2 separate regions of the Homo sapiens genome follow, and region 1 is linked to region 2. A link means that fine-mapping ties the variant in region 2 to the expression of a gene that starts in the linked region. Tissue or cell type: tibial nerve. Region 2 holds a variant in brackets; the other region holds the start of a gene. All regions are shown on one strand. Distances are between the middles of the regions.

Evidence for each region. PIP is the estimated chance that this variant, and not a neighbour inherited with it, causes the effect.
Region 1: INF2 starts here. The variant in region 2 is fine-mapped to the expression of INF2 in tibial nerve (GTEx, PIP 0.97).

What each region holds. Positions count from the first base shown.
Region 1 is chr14:104,685,720-104,693,800 of GRCh38, reverse strand. It overlaps INF2 (inverted formin 2), which reads right to left and starts at 4,183. Exons shown (of 23, transcript NM_022489.4): 1 at 4,062-4,183. RefSeq lists enhancers at 1-257, 4,212-5,201, 5,202-6,189 and silencers at 3,670-3,719, 3,810-4,049, 4,070-4,159, 4,260-4,519.
Region 2 is chr14:104,653,233-104,661,331 of GRCh38, reverse strand. LINC02280 (long intergenic non-protein coding RNA 2280) reads left to right here. Exons shown (of 2, transcript NR_135293.1): 2 at 1-212. Among named protein-coding and RNA genes, the nearest start is that of LINC02280, 8.3 kb to the left of the region's middle. RefSeq lists enhancers at 870-1,464, 1,465-2,059, 2,760-2,829, 2,880-3,009, 4,160-4,269 and 3 more. The variant TG/G (reference allele first, on the strand shown) is at 3,285.

The sequences.
Region 1 (8,081 bases), 32 kb before region 2:
GCAAGGACCCAGGTACAGATGGGGAGATGGAGGCCAGTGGGATGCTGGCCCTCCTCGCACAGCTGGCCACGTCCACCCCCGACCCGGCGAGGGCCAGGACAGCTCAGGCACGAACAAACCCCTGCACCACTGGCCATGCCCACTGGGACTCCATGCGTGTTGGGCAGCTGGCCACTCGCTGGGCAGAGCGAGGGGCTGGGGCTGGCCTCTGCCCACAGCAGCTGAATGGGGGCTTGGAGATGATACAGAAAAGCCACTACCCGGGGCTGGTGTGCTCAGCGGCCACTGCTTCCCTCTCCCTCCCTCCTCAACTGTGCCCTGGGTTAGCCTCAAAGCTAGGCTTTGACACTAGCCCTCGTCTGCAAAATGGGAAGCAGACAGCCTGCCCTCCGCCCCCAGTGTGGCTCCTGGTTGAGTTCTGGCCCACCAAGGGCTGCCTGGGGGCCTCTGCCTTCACTGTGAGGTGGGCCCGGGGCAGAGCCCTGTAACAGTAGGACAGCCCTCCAATCCACCCCACTCCCTCTCCCCCACCCCACCTCTCCCACTTTGGACCTTGGGGTGCTCAGACTGTGTCCAGGTCACAGGAAGCAGGTGGGGTGGTATAACGCTGTCACAGCACGGGAGCACAGGGTCCCTGCCCAGGGCACCAGGGCCAGGGGCCTTGGCAGCATCTTCCCATGTCCCTCTGACCCTGCAAAGGCCTTGATCGGCGGCCAGGAGCCTGGCCAGGCCTCCAGTGGTGCCCATCTGCTCCTTCTGGGTCTCCATGCCATTTCCAACAGACAGAGGTTGGGGCTGAGGGAGATGGAGGGTGCCCCAGCCACGGCCAGTCACCCTTCTGGGGTGAGAACAGGAGTGAACTGAGGGCACAGAGGCTCGGGGCAGCCCAGGCTGGCCCTTCTCTCAGGACTCTCCTGGTACCTCTCTCTCCCTCCCTGCTGCCTCTGGGAAAAGCTGCAGGCGAAAGAGGAAAGCAGCCTTGGCCCTTGCCCTTGGCCATTGGCGTGGCAAGGTCCTCAGGGCCTTCACGCTAGTCATCCCATCTGGGCTGTGACCACACTGGTCATTCCACCCAGGCTGTGACCCAGGCCGACTGGCTGGGAGGGCTCCGGGGTCCAGGCTGGCCCTTGGGCAGTTGTCTGTCTGCATGGGCTGCTCTGGAGTGACACAGGTGGTTGCCTGGAGGGCGGGCCTATTCCTGCCCCACCAACCCCCGAGTTTGGAGGCCCGGTAATGGCTACTTGACCAGGACAGGCCTGTCCTATTCCCAGAGTGGCAGTGCCAGCACCCTGAGCCTACCCCAGTGGTAGCAACAAGGGCTGGGGGGCCTCGGCCTCCAGCTACTCTGTGGGGCCAGCCCATTTGCACCCTGACCCCCAGTAAGTGCCCTGCACCTGCCTGGCACCGTGCTGAGCGGGGCTGGGCTCCAGGCTCTGGGCACAAGGGCAGATGCACACAGTAGGGGCTTTATCAGCACCTCCTGGCAGAATGGATGGCACTGAGTGTAAAATGGCACCGACTGTCCCGCGCCTCACCTGTGAAATGAACGCTCCTGCAGGACCCACGTCGCACTGGGAGGGATGAGGGTGGGAGACCGTGCGGAGGGACCCCGCAGGCTGGCTCATTCCTTTCCTCCTCACCCACTCACCCAGCACACAGACCCTGCCCAGGCTGGCGTGAATGGTGAGTGGACAGACCCGGCCTGAGGCTGGCCCTCGGGGACTGACATGAGCCCTCAGAGGGGCGACCCTAAGCAACCCCTGTGGTTCCTTATTTAATTACAGCTTAGAAAGGGCTGTGAGAGAGGACGGCCCCTCAGGAGAGGACAGGCACCACCGGTCTGCCCTGCTCTCCTGGCCTGGTGGTTGCCAGGGTATACCGGCACTGGGCTGGGGGGCAGCTGTGTGAGCAGACCTCACCCCAGCTCAGGACCCAGGCTGTCTGGGTGCTCAGAGGCAGACCAGGCAGGACTCTCCCTCCTAGGGTGAGGCTGGCAGGAGTGGAAGCCTCTCTAACAGGGGGCCAGGTGGTTGGACCCTGCTCACCCCTCCAGCGACGGGGAGCCCGTGCCCCTGCCCTCTCTCCTTCCCACCGTTGGTAGAACTTAGTCTTTGACTTTAGGTGTCCACTAGGCCTGGGTCTGCTGTGGCCCCTGGGGACCACCCTCCAGAGACTGGCTCCTATGTGGCCTCCACCTCCCGGCCTTCCCGTCCACCATCCTGAAAACAGAGGTGGGTGTGCCTTCTCCAATGTAATGTGTCCACTGGGCCATGAACCACACACCTATCAGACACCTGCTGTTTGCAAGATGGAGGTAGGGGAGGGGCTGGCAGCAGGGAGTCAGGTCTCATTCCTGACTACAGGGAAATTTGACCTCCAGGCACCAGCAAAAAGCCAGGGGCTTGAGCTTACTTCACTGTCCCCGTCCAGAGCTGGGCCAGCTGCGTCCTGCCCCACACCCACAGGCAGCACCGCATCACTTTCCAGTCACCACCCACCCCTCCCGCAGCCTGCATGAACCGCATAACTTTTCCAACCCAGGAAGTAACTGCACTTTGATGGAAGGCGCAGAGTCTATTTCAGGTAGGAGCTTCCACGTCCCCACATGTGCGGTGTGTGTCATTCGCTTGACAGCCGTCAGCTCCTCCACAAAGTGGGCGCTCACCTGAAGGTTAACTCAGGAGCCCTGGCTGTGGAGGCTACAGTCGCACCTGGCCACTTGGTCCGTCCCCACTAGCGACATCCCCTTTGCCGGGCTGCAGGGCCCATGACAGTCCAGGGATGGGAGGGCAGGGCCTGGGCAGGGCCCACTGCACCAACCTGGCTTTTAGAACAGAAAATTGCTGCTGCCCTGGTAGGGGTGGGAGCAGTGTGAGGTCTCAGACCCCAGGCCTGGAACCCAATGCTACTATTTGCTGCACTGGGGGCTGAGCACCGACACCCCAAAAGCCCCTGGCTGGGTGGCACCCTCGGGGTCTGAGGCACTGCTCTGGGACCCCACCTTCCCAGTGCAGGGCGGCAGGGAGCAGGTCCCAGCCTGAGCTGCTGTCCCACCCTTCAGAGTGCAGATGTGGAAACTGAGGCCGGAAGAGGGCGAGTATCCTGCTCCATTCCAGTGCCAGACGGAGGGGCAGGGCTGGCAGTAAGGGAATTTCCTACGTCCAGCGCCTTCTGGGTGTGCCTGACCTCTGGCCCGGTTCCTGGGTTCCTGGTTCCCTGCCTGGGCAGGGTCTCTGCCTCTCTGCCTCCTGGTGTGTCCAGCTGGAGTGGGCAGTAATGCTGTGGTCACAGCTGAGCTGCGGGAGCCCTGGGTGGGGAGCTTGAGCCCCAGAAGGCCCAGACAGACAGACCACCCCCCACGCCTGTGCTCCCCAGGGGGCATTGGGGACGGTCAGGGACACAGCTGGTCACCCCGCCTTCCCCTCCTTAGTCATGGTCACTCCTGGGGCGACTCCCCAGTTAGAGGGTTGACGGGTGGGTCTGGGGGCGTACAGGGATTGGATCCTACCCCACCCAAAAGGAACAGAGAGCTGTGATGGAGGCTGATTCCCCTAAGCCTGCCAGCGGTTGCGGGGTGGGAAGGGCTCCCTGTGCGCCCACCTGCGCGTGGGCAGCTGGAAGCCAAGCAGTCAGGGTGGGGCCGCAGGCCGGCGCGCACCTCGGGGTGCCACCCGGGCGGCGGACCCGAAGTTGAAGTTTATTTTCCCAACTGTGGCTGATTCATGGTCAGGATGTGGCAGCCGCGAGGCGCGGAAATCCCGCCTGCCCTGGGAGTAGGCCCGGCCGACCCTGGGCCCACCACTCTGCGGCCAGTGCGCGCTCGGGCGGTGCCTCGGCGCGGAGGACCATAGTCCCGAGCGGGGCGCGCGGAGCCGGGGGGGCCAGGGGCGCCCTGGGGTCCCCGCCCGGGAACTGTACCCTGCGCCGCCGGACCGCCCGCCGCCACCTGGGCACACACGCCGCAGCCCGGAACCTCGCTCCTGGACCCAAGCACGCCCCTGCCTCCTCCCGGACTCAGTTTCCCCTGAAGCTCCAAGCGGACCCCGAGGCCAAGGACTTACCCGGTGAGGCAACGGCCAGAGGGCGGTGGTGCGGCCGGCGCTCCGTCCGGGGCCGGGTCAGGGGCTGCGGGCAGCCGGCGCCCACTGCCGCGCTCCGCAAGGCTCGGACGGTGGCTCCTGGCGGGCGCGGGGCGGGCGGGGCGGGCGGGAGGAAGAGGAGGTGCCGCCCCGCCCGTCAGCGGCCACGTGGGGAGCGAGCGCGGGCCGGGGGCGGGGCCTGGGGGGGGAGGTGGGTGGCTGGGGGTGGCCCCGCCCACTGTGGCCGGTCCCTGAGGGCGCTTTAAGGGGTCTCCCCACTCCCGTGAATAACCTGGCCGCCCCCTCGCGGTCCCTGCTGGCCTGGCTCCTGGTGGGCGGAGATGGGGGTGGGACGCGCAGATCGGGGCCGTCTCCCGCCTCAGCCCCCACTGTCCGCCCCGTCCCTGCCCTCCACCGCCTCCCGTCCACCTACACCCCTATCCTCCGGTGGGACTGGCCTCCCAGGCGCCGCTCACCTCTCTCTGCCCCGGCCCGGGACTCCCGTTCCAGCCAGCCGGATCCGGAGTCCCCGCGTTCGGGGATCCCTCAGCAGAGATGGCTCTTCCCAGGCTTTGGGGAGAGAGAGCCTACCCATCAACCAGGCCACCCATGTGGCCTCCTCTCCGCAGCCCTGCCTGACCCCCTTCCACCCTTGATGGGGTCTCGGCGGTCTTGGGCAGCCGCACTTCGCCGGTTGGTGGAGACAGCTGCATGAGGGCCGCGGAGGTGTCGCAATGGGGTGGGTTTTCTCTGCCACCCCTCTGCTGTCCGGCCTCATCTGTCTCCTAGATTGAGGGGGGCACCCATCCCCCCACCGCCGACATTGACCAGCATGGGGCGTGCCCATAGTCGGCTCTGAAAGCCAGCCTGGTTGGATGAGAGCCAGACCCCAGCTCTGGAAGTCCCTTCTGACGTCTGACCCTCAGTCAGAGCTGCAGGAAGCAGCGCACCAGGCCTGGGGTTTGGGGGCCACTGGCAGCTAGAGGGAGGGCAGAGGAAGGCAGGCCTGGGGGAGCCCCCGTGTGACATGTGACAGAGCAGACACAACCCCTGCCCTGAGAACCGGCGCCAGCACTCCCTGTGCGGCCTCAGGCTCGGATATGACTCTGTGGAGCCTCAGTTTCCCCATCTGTAAAATAGAATAAGTACCCGTAAGGGCTGTATGAGGGTCAAGAACATGCGGATAAAGTGTCTCCACTCGGAGTCCTGACATCTCTCTCCGGAGGGCCTGCTGTGTGGGCCGTGGCGGCCAGGGCTCAGGGTGAGGGCGAGGGGAGAGAAAAGGGCTCCTGAATGGCTTCCCAGCCCCGATGCAGCTTCTGCTTTGAGGCCAGCTGCGTGTCCTTTGGCTTTGGTGTGCCTCCGCTCCGGTGGGGATAAGCGCCGAATTGCAGGCTGCGTCTGTCTGCTCCCTGTGCGGACCTTGCCCTGCCCAGCAGCCCCAGCCCCGGAAGTTTGCTGGCTCAGCCCCAGTGCAGGAGCAGCTGCAGGCCACAGCCCCGGGTGTGCCTGAGGAGCCAGCCAAGGCAGGCGCTCACTGGACACCCTCCAACCTGGGCGGCCGCTGCTCCTAGACAGGCACTCTGCAATTCTTGGAATGCACCTGGAAGGCCGGCCTCCGGCCCTCCACACCGGGCTCCAGGGCCCCTTCCAGAGCAGAAGGCCTTCCTGCCCTCCCTCAAGCTGGGCTTTGGGTCTCCTGGTGCACTCCTGGACCCGAACATTGGTGCCTGCCCTGGTACCACCCCACCCTGGAGGGCACGGGCGGGGCTGACTCATCTGCGTTGGGAGCTGATGCCTGGCAGCGGTGCTGGGCAGTGGGTGTGTTTGTTGATCCAGTGAATGGAGGAATGTGAGGAGGTTGGTGGGGAGTGAGCTTTGACCTGCAGCCCCCTCCCCTGTCCACCTGCCTGGGGGAAAGTCAGAGTCCTGAGCCTTACTCAGAGGCTGGAGTAGGAGGTCAGGTGTGGGCGAGGGGTCCACCTTTCCTGCCCTGATGGGGGAGGGAGGCCCAGCGCCCCCAGGGCCGCTCCTGCCTGGGGCTGTCTCCCTTGCACCCAGTCGTGCTTCCGAGCTGCACACCTGGTCCAGAGAGGCCAGCACAGGCCGGAGCAGGGTGAAGAAGGTGGGGTGAATGTGATTTAGTTGGAGAGAGGTTGGAGAAGTCCCTGGGGTCGGCAGGGAGTGCAGAGGAGGGCTTTGGGCCCTGATTAAGAGTGTGTGTCTGTGTGTGTGTGTGTGTATGTGTGTGTGTGTGTGTGGAGTGGAGGCCGAGGTCAGAGGTCTGGGAGGGTGGAAATGTGGACACTGAAAGGGGGTTTTCCGTCAGGCTTGAACCCACCATGCCCGGGGCAGCAGGGTTCAACCCGGCTTGAGCACTGATTTTCTGAGACATACAGAGGCCCCCTCCTCTTCTCCTTCAGTGGCTCACCCTCAACCCTCTGTACCTCCAGCGCTCCCAGACTCCATCCTGGCCCTATTCTGAGCTTGCTTCCTGGCCCTGGGGTTGAAGAGAGGACCGATTTGGCCTCAGAAACACACCACCTGCAGCCACTGCCTGCGGCTTCCGGAGCTGCTTCCTGGAAGCCATGGCCTGCCTGGAGCCTCCCCTCCTGGGTGTCGGTCCTTCCTCGGAGCCGGGTACACAAGTGCCGGCCCCCAGCTGCAGGTACCCAGATGCCTGAGAACAGGGTCGTGCAGGTACAGGCTGGTACTGTGACACACCCAGGCGGAGCCACATGTTCCTGGCCACTGGCACAGAGTGCAAGAGTGGCCCTGCCACTGTAGGCCTGTGGAGAGCTTGCCTCTGCCTCTTGCTGGAAGATTGGGATGAGGGGAGAGCAGGCCTTGGCACCGACAGCTTGAGTTCTGCTAGAAACAGGCAGGCAGGTGTGGGCGTTCTGAGAGAAATCCTCCCAGCCTGATGTTGGCGCCGCCGTGCAGTCAGGACAGCCCTGCATGCAGCAGGCGGCCACTTGCAGGCCCAGAAGGGCTTCCTGGGGTCCACCTGAGCAGCAGCCTGGCCATGGGTTCATTTCCTTCATCAGTTCAGCACCCAGAATGCTTTTTATCTTTTTTCCCCTTTTGAGATTTTATTTTGCATCCTACTGTGGTGCCCTGAGATGATCTCTGACATTGTTACAGAATGAAGTAAGTGAAAACATGCCTGCTCACCCATGTCCACCCACCTTGCCCACCTATGTACCCATTCACCCATTCATCCATCCATTCCCACACACACCCACACTTCATCCGTCTGTTCACCCACCTACCCACCCATTCACCCACCCACCCTCATCCATCCATCTGCCTATCCATTCATCCATCCACCCACCCATCTGTCCATCCACTTATCCATACACCTACCCATCCACCTATTCACCCTTAATCCACTCATCCACCCATCCACCCACCTACCCACCCATTCATCCACCTACCCTTATCCATCCATCTGCCCATCCATTCATCTATCCACCCACCCACCTATCCACTCACACATCCATCCACCTACCCATCCACCCATCCACCTACCCACCTATCATCTACTCATCCATCCATCTGCCCATCCCTTCATCCATCTACCCATCCACCTACCCATCATCCACTCATCCACCCATCTAACCACCTACCCACCGACTGATCCACCCACCCTCATCCATCCATCTGCCCATCTATTTGTCCATCCACCCACCCACCTACCCACCCACCTATCCACCCACCTACCCATCCATCCATCCACCTACCCACCCATCATCCACTCATGCACCCATCCCCCCACTTACCCACCCATTTGCCACTCACCCACCCACCCTCATCCATTCATCTGCCCATTCATTCATCCATCCACCCACCCATCCATCCATCCACCCACCATCCACTTACCCATCGGCCTACCCACCCATCATCCACTCATCCACCCATCCACCCACCTACTCACCCATTCATCCACCCATGCACCCACCCTTATCCATCCATCTGCCCATCCATTCATCCATCCACCCA
Region 2 (8,099 bases):
GGTGGAGAGAATTTTCTGGAATGTGAAGGAGAGTGCTGTGGAGAGGAGCCATGACATTCCCAAGGCCACCTCACACAGTCATCTGCCATCATTTGCAGATCACATGTCAGCTTACTTAGCAAGCCTAACAGAACGGACAGGAAAACGTAATGTTATAAACACATAATTCTCCCCAGAGAATTATGGGGACATAATAAATTCAATGCAATTCTAATTGGAGTCTCATTTGGGCTTCAATTTTTTTTTAAAGAAATAAATAAATGTAGTCTACATTTTACATGGAAGAATACAGATCAAAAGCAGCTAAGATGGCTTGAGAAAGAAGAAAACAGACAGGGTGTTTGCGCCTACAAAGCCGGGTAACTGAAAGCAGCAGTGGAAGAGGCTGGGCCCGTGGAGGGAGACCCAGGCTGCACGGGGTAGGACGGAGGGCTCTGCCGGGCATTTCCTCCTGGCCCCCCCGGGGAGCTGAGGTGTGCGTAATTAGTACTTGTGCTTGGTGGGGAGGAAGTGAGAGCAGAGGGCGCTGGGCCACTGCTTCTCACTTTCTGGGACCCCAGCATCCCCAGGCAGGAGCGTCCCTGTCCTGGCAGGCAGGTCTTGGGCCTCAGGTCTGAACATCTGAATATCTGTGCAGCCCTGCCAGGGCCCCTCTCGGTCCTGCAGGCTCCTGGCGCTGGCTGGGGCACAGGGAGCCCTGAAGACGCCTGGGGGTCTGTGGGTGCTGCAGGCACCGCTGGCTGGTTATAGTCGCAACAGCCCCCAGGTGGGCAATTTTCCTTCCACTTCACAGTGGAGGAAACGGGTTCTGAGAGGTAGCAGCTTTCCCAAGTGCAGGGGGGTGGGGGCAGGACTTGAACCCAGATCCCTGAGAATCTGAACCCAGGCCTCTGCTCTTGCTCTCCAAGCTTCCAGACAGAGAAGGAGAGTGGGTGGCGACGGCCATCGGGAGGGGCTCCAGACGGAGGACCGGGCAAGTGAGCGCCTGGTGGGCGGCCTGGGGCGGAGGCACCCAGGGAGCCCAAATCGGGGCACCTGGGAGGAGGAAGTTCCCAGAGGACTGCAGACCCTGCAGCTGTGCCTCCGAGGTCAGAACCGCCCACGCCCGCCAGGCAGGACGTGCGGCTCCTGGCCGCAGCTGTCAGGGAGGAAATTCACGTCTCAGCTGAGGTTTAAGAGGCATCTGACCCTCTGCTAAAAATACTCGGGCAGCGTGGGTCCGGTGGAGTTGGCTGTGGGGTGCGTCTGGGTGGGGGTCCCAGCGAGGCCAGAACAGGCGCCAGCGACCTGCAGAGCGGTGCAGTGCGGTGGGGCTTGTGGATGCCGGGCCTGCAGACCAGCTCCATGGGAGAAACTGGGGCGGGGTAGGGAAGGCGCGGTGAGTCGCCGGCCCGCGGAGCCCCCGTTTGTGCCCTCGCTGGCAAACTGTGAAGCCCGTGCAAGGCGGGAGAGGCCGTGGGCTGGCGGGAACCTGGGCGTCCTGGGCTGCCCAGAACGTGCTGCCTCAGTTTACCCAGCTTTACCATGCAGAGGCCAACCTCGCCCCTCCCTTTCTCACCAGTGGTCAGTAAGATTCGGGTGGTGTTGGACATCACCTGAACAGATGTGGAGGTGGAGGGGGGTTGAGGTGTAGGCAGGGGCTGTGGAGCACCCTGGGGGGGCAGGTGTTGGACACTGGGGTCCCGGAATCAGGCCCTGTGATCTCAGGGAGGCTCACCTGGCTTCTGGTTCCCAATCCCCTTCTGGGTGAGTGGACGTGCACCCCTCCCCCAGTGCAGAGGGCTTGTTGGGGTACTCTGCAGGTCTTTTCTCCCCACAGCAGGGGTGGAGTAGGAGAAGGGAAGCTTCGGAGGGAGGGGCTCTGGGCTGGGAAGGAGGGAGGGTCTGAGAAGCAGGGAGCCCTGGGACTGGTTGGGGCGGGTCACTCTGACACGGATCTCACTGTGGAGGGGGTGATGTTGCTGAGACCTGCATGGGTCCGGGCTTCCAGTGGCCCCACCAGAATCCAGGGCCACCAGGGTGGGGGGTGCTGGTGGTTTCTGAGTACCTTCCCACACTGCCCCCATGGCAGACCCCTCCCAGCAGATCCCAAACATTCCCCACTATGCAGGGGAAGGGTGAAGCCACATTCCCCACTACTCAGGGGAAGGGTGGAGCCCCCTTCCTCTGGGACCACCCGCCTGGAGTCACCTCCTCTGGGCCTGCATATCCCTCCCGGGGAGGGACAGAAAGGAAGGTGGCAGCTGGAGGGCTTCCAGAGACCACCGACCAGCACCGGGCAGACAGGAAGACTCTGGAAGTCAAGCTATGACTTTTTTTGAGACAGGGTCTCGCTTTGCCACCCAGGCTGGAGTGCGGTGGTGCGATCTCAGCTCACTGCAACCTCCATCTCCTGGGCTCAAGTGATTCTCCTGCCTCAGCCTCCCAAAGTGCTGGGATTATCTGCATGAGCCACCGCTCCCAGCCTAAAGGGGACATTTTCATTGTCAGTTTCTTAATTTCCACTTTAGAGGGCAGGAAACTAAATCAGCCAGTTTGGTCCAATGGCAGGGGTTTGGGCCCCTTCTGAGGGCAGCCTGCTCTTCAATTGTGGGGGCTGCCTCAGGGGGCCTTTGGTTTCGCATTGATGGGATGGCTGTACCACTCATCTTCCAAACCAGGACAGCTTTGAGAGAGAAACAGGTACCAGTGACGCCAGGACACCAGGGGTGGTGCAGCGCACCTGCAGAGCTGAGCCAGGCTCCGTCGTGGGCGGATGCGCCACCGGCAAAATGCATCTGTTTGTTGCTGCGTCACAAATGACCCTCAGACGTAAATCCCAGAGACCATGCATTTTGCTCCCAAATCTGCAATTTGGGCAGGGCTCAGCAGGACTGTCTCATCTCTGTCCACGTGGCATCAGCCGGGGTGCCCGAGTGGGGGCTGGAGGGCCACCTCTGTCATGGTTCACTCGGCATGGTGGCTGGAGCCCAAGTCAGCCTCCCAGGAGAACAAGATGGAGGTGCGTGGACTCCAGAGCTGTGAAAAGAAAATCCGTAATGGAGATGGTTATGTCAGGGCTATCTAAAAAGGAACTGGGAGGGCAAGAGGAGCTGGACCCCGTCCAACTCGCCAGATAGAATTGATCTGTTGACCTGGGCCGGATCGTGAACCAGCTGCATTTGATTTGAACCATTCACACCGGGCCTGATCACTGGTCTCCTGGAGACAGGCACACCTGACTAGATTGATCATCAGCCAGAGCTGTCCTAAGCTGTTAAGCCCCCACCGTCGGTCATGGACCA[TG/G]CCAACAGCTTCCGGATGTGTAGACTCACAGCAAACCTTTGTAAGCCCCTGCCCGGCCTCCCCCGCACAGACACGTTTGAGCTCCTTGCTAGATCTGTGTCTCCTGAACCGCAGTTCCTGAGGCCCTCCTTCTCTTTTGTTTCCTGATCTACAGTGTTGGTCTATTTTTTGTCAGTTGACAGAACATAGCCTTGCAAGTCACCCAGTCCCTTTTTTTTTTTTGAGAGAGGGTCTTGCTCTGTTGCCCAGGTTGGAGTGCAGTGGTGCAATCATGGCTCACTACAGCCTTGACCTCCTAGGCTCAAGCGATCCTCCTGCTTCAGCCTTGTGAGTAGCTGGGACTACAGATGTGTGTCACCATGCCTGGCTAATTAAAACAATTTTTTTTTTTTTTGTAGAGAGGGGGGTCTCACTATGTTGCCCAGGCTGGTCTTGAACTCCTCCGCTCAAGTGACCGTCTTGCCTCGGCCTCCCAAAGTGCTGGGATTACAGGCGTGAGCAACTGTAATGCACCAAGCTAACCCAGCTCACTTCTGCTATCCTCTGTCAGCAGAGACCCAAAGGCCTGGCCAGGCTCAAGGGGAGGGGACACAGCCCCTGCCTCTTGACGAGGGAGAGGCAGGGTTAGGAGGGCTTGTGGGATAGGAGATGGCACGGTGGCCATTATGGGACCCAGGCAGCCTCAGGAGGCGTGGGGGATGGCACTGCTCTCACAGGGAACATCTGAGCCCTGCGGGGGCAGGTGCATCTCAGCAGTGCGGGTGTGCACCCGGAGAGATGCTTCTCTGCTCACATGGGTTTGTGCCCGTGCCCTGTCTGCACAGTTTTCTGCAGGCTCTGAAGGAGCAGCCATGCACATGCTTTCTGCTTCCTCTTTCTTGACAGCGCTTGCCTGTGGGTGCCAGGACCCCACATGCTTTTGGTTCCCCTCTGGATGAGTGAGCCCAAGTTACCGTAACAGAAGACCTCAGCCTGGGCAGCTTAGACGATAGACCTTTATTTTCTCACAGCTCTGGAGCCTGGAAGTCCAAGATCAAGGTGCCACCAGTGTCAGAGCTGGTTTCTCATGAAACCTTCTCCCGGCCTTGCTGCGCCCACCTCTGGTGTCTCCTCCTCTTCTTGGAAGGCCACAGCCCTGTTGGATTAGGGCCCACCCTTATGACTTCGTAAAGGTCGTAGTTACCTTCTAAAGACCCTATTTCCAAATCAGTCACATTGGGGGTTGCGGCTTGACATAAGGATTTGGGGGGGCCACACTTCAGTCCATAGCACCCTCCTACCTCCCTGGCTGCCCCACCTCTGCCTCTGTCATCCCCTCCTCTCCCCGAGGAGAGGCCTCCTCTCCGGAGGGGCCGTGCCCCATCTCATCTATGAAGACTGCCCCCCGCCCCCGCTCCCGCGCTGTCTGTGCACCGTCAGCCTCCCACCGCCCTCCACGTCCTCAGAAACACACACTTGATGAGGCTGAAAGAACCGTGACTCTCTCGCCCGCCCCCACCATCTGCTTTTGCCTCCCGTGGGACACCCCACCACTTTGTCAAGCCCCGAGCCAGCCTCTCTCCGTGTTCTTCCCTCCCCTCACTGCCTCCACACCGAGGAGCTAGGCACTGCTTCCTAAGTCTCCCTTCCTGCATTGCTCACCACCTCCCCTGCCGCCACCATGTCCAGGGGCCAAAATTGTTCTGTCTGTTCTCCCTCCCTCCGCTGGGGCCTGAGGGCAGTCTGCTCCCATGGGAGCCGGCGGGATGCTGGCAAGTCACAGATGCAATCCTGTCCATGGCTCCCGCCTCCCTGCAGGTTACAAACATGCCTCCCTTTTCCTGCTGTTGGAATGAAGCTCAGAACCACGGCCCTGAGGCCCCATCCTGTCTGGTCCTGCTGCCTTCAGCCACGTCTCAGACCCCTTTCTGCGCCCGTCTGCCTCCAGCCGCACTGACATCAGTGCCAGGCATGCGCCTCTTCCCTCCTTCCCCAGGGCCTTTGCACGTGTAGCTCCCGCTGCCTGAGCACTCTTCCATGGCTCTGGCTCAGTCTGACATTCTATTTTTTCCTTGGAGAGTTAAGTGGAAGTTATATGCTCTATTTCTATTTTAAAATAGTCACTCTTAGAATTTTAACAAGTATATTTAGAATTCAAAGATAGCCAGTGTTTCCATCCTCCTCCTGATCACGCCCCTCCTGGCTCACAGATCATTACGACTGCCCAATACTCAGGTCTGCCTTGCCTTTATCACCCTCCACTTTCCACAGGGCTTTGTTGCACACAGCCAGCACTCGTTGAGGTTTGCACATGTTTGCACCCCACTCTTTCTGGCAGCCCAGGCGTCCCCTCTTTCTGAGCTGTATTCTGTGGAGGTTGCTCTGCTAAGGAGCTGGGTGGTGGCGCAGTCATTTTGCTGATCTGATGCTTCTCCCACACCCGTAAGTGGGAGTGGAGCAGGGCGTGTGGGTCCGGCTGCTGCCTCTGCCTCGGCACTTCAGAGACGGTCATCTGCTCCTGTTCTTGCCGTTCGCGGGGTCTGCCTCCAGCAAGTTCTCCTTCAGCATTCTGAGTGTACCACGGGACAGCTAGGTATGGGCTGCTTTTATTCTTCCTGCTTGAGAGTGCTGCACTCTTGAGGCTGAAGTTTCCATATTTTATCAGTTCTGGAAAATTCTCAGCCATATTGTCAGGGAGCTGGTGGGCTCTCCCCGTTTTATTTATTTCCACCTCTTGGAATTCCTTCCTTCCTTCCCGCCTTCCCACCTTCCCTCCTTCCCTCCTTCCCTCCTTCCTTCCTTCCTTCCATCCTTCCTTCCCTTCCCTCCCTCCCTCCCTTCCTCCCTCCCTCCCTTCCTTCCTTCCCTCCTTCCCTCCTTTCCTCCCTCTTCCCTCCCCTTCCTTCCCCTTCCCTCCCCTTCCCTTCTCTTTTCTTTTTGAGGCAAGTCTCGCTCTGTCACCCAGGCTGGAGTGCAGTGGCATGATCTCTGCTCACTGCAAGCTCCGCCTCCTGGGTTCACGCCATTCTCCTGCCTCAGCCTCCCGAGTAGCTGGGACTACAGGCACCCACCACCACGTCTGGCTAAGTTTTTGTATTTTTAGTAAAGACAGGGTTTCACTATGTTAGCCAGGATGGTCTCAATCTCCTGACCTCATGATCCGCCCGCCTCAGCCTCCCAAAGTGCTGGGATTACAGGTGTGAGCCACCGCGCCCGGCTTCTTTTCTTTTCTTTCTTCAGAGTCTCGCTTTCCTGCCCAGGCTGGAGTGAAGTGGCGCAATCTTGGCTGCACTGCAACCTCTGCCTCCCAGGTTCTCCGGGATTCTCCTGCCTCAGCCTCCCGAGTAGCTGGGATTACAGGCACCCGTCATCATGCCTGGCTAATTTTTGTATTTTTAGTAGAGATATGTTTTCACCATGTTGGCCAGGCTGGGTTCGAACTCCTGGCCTCAAGTGATCCACCTGCCGTGGCTTCCCAAAGTGCTGGGATTACAGGCATAAGCCACTGTGCCCAGCCCCTCTGGAATTTCGATCGGAAGTACGGAAAACCTTCTTATCCATCTCTCCTATGTCTTAACCTCTTCTGAACCCCCTTAACACCTCCTATCTGTCTGTGCCGATTAGGGGTGATCACAGTCTTCCCTATCGATTCCTCACTTCCCTCTTGATCTGCATCAAATCAGCTGCCAGACCAGCTGACTGGGGGCTTGTTTCCACACCGTCTTCCCATGTTTCCAGGTACAGTTCAAGTTCAGTGGCAGTAAGTACATTCGCATTGTTGTGCAACCAATCTCCAGAACTTTTTGACCTTCCCAAACGGAAACTCTGAAACAGCAAACACAAACTCCCCACACCCTCCTTCCCCCAGCCTGGCACCCTCCATTCTGCTTTCTGTCTCTGCGGTTTTGACTGCTCTGGGAGCCTCACAAACATGGAGTCAGGCAGCACTTGCCCTTTTGTGTCGGTTCTTTCCCTCAGCATAATGTCTTCAAGCCTGAGCTGTGTGGCAGCCTGTGTCAGGACCTCCTGTGTTTGTTGTTGTTGTTGGTGTTGTTGAGGCTGGATAATATTCCCCTTGATGGATACGCCACTTTTTTCTTTTTGAGACAGGGTCTCGCTCTGTTGCCCAGGATGGAGTGCAGTGGCGCCATTATGGCTCACTGCAGCCTCGACCTCCCTGGGCTCAAGCAATCCTCCCACTTCAGCCTCCTGAGTAGCTGGGACTACAGGCGCACACCAGCATGTTTAGCTAATTTTCGTATTTTTTGTATTGATGGATTTTCACCTGTTGGCCAGGTTGGTCTTGCACTCCTGAGTTCAAGCGGTCCACCCGTCTTGGCCTTCCATGTGATGGGATTACAGGCGTGAGCCACCTCGCTCGGCCTGGATACACCAGGTTCGCCCAGCCGCCTCGCCCGGCCTGGATACACCAGGTTCGCCCAGCCGCCTCGCCAGGCCTGGATACACCAGGTTCGCCCAGCCGCCTCGCCCGGCCTGGATACACCAGGTTCGCCCAGCCGCCTCGCCAGGCCTGGATACACCAGGTTCGCCCAGCCGCCTCGCCCGGCCTGGATACACCAGGTTCGCCCAGCCGCCTCGCCCGGCCTGGATACACCAGGTTCGCCCAGCCGCCTCGCCAGGCCTGGATACACCAGGTTCGCCCAGCCGCCTCGCCAGGCCTGGATACACCAGGTTCGCCCAGCCGCCTCGCCCGGCCTGGTTACACCATGTTCGCCCAGCCGCCGCGCCAGGCCTGGATACACCAGGTTCGCCCAGCCGCCGCGCCAGGCCTGGATACACCAGGTTCATCCATCCGTGAGCACCTGGGCTGCTTC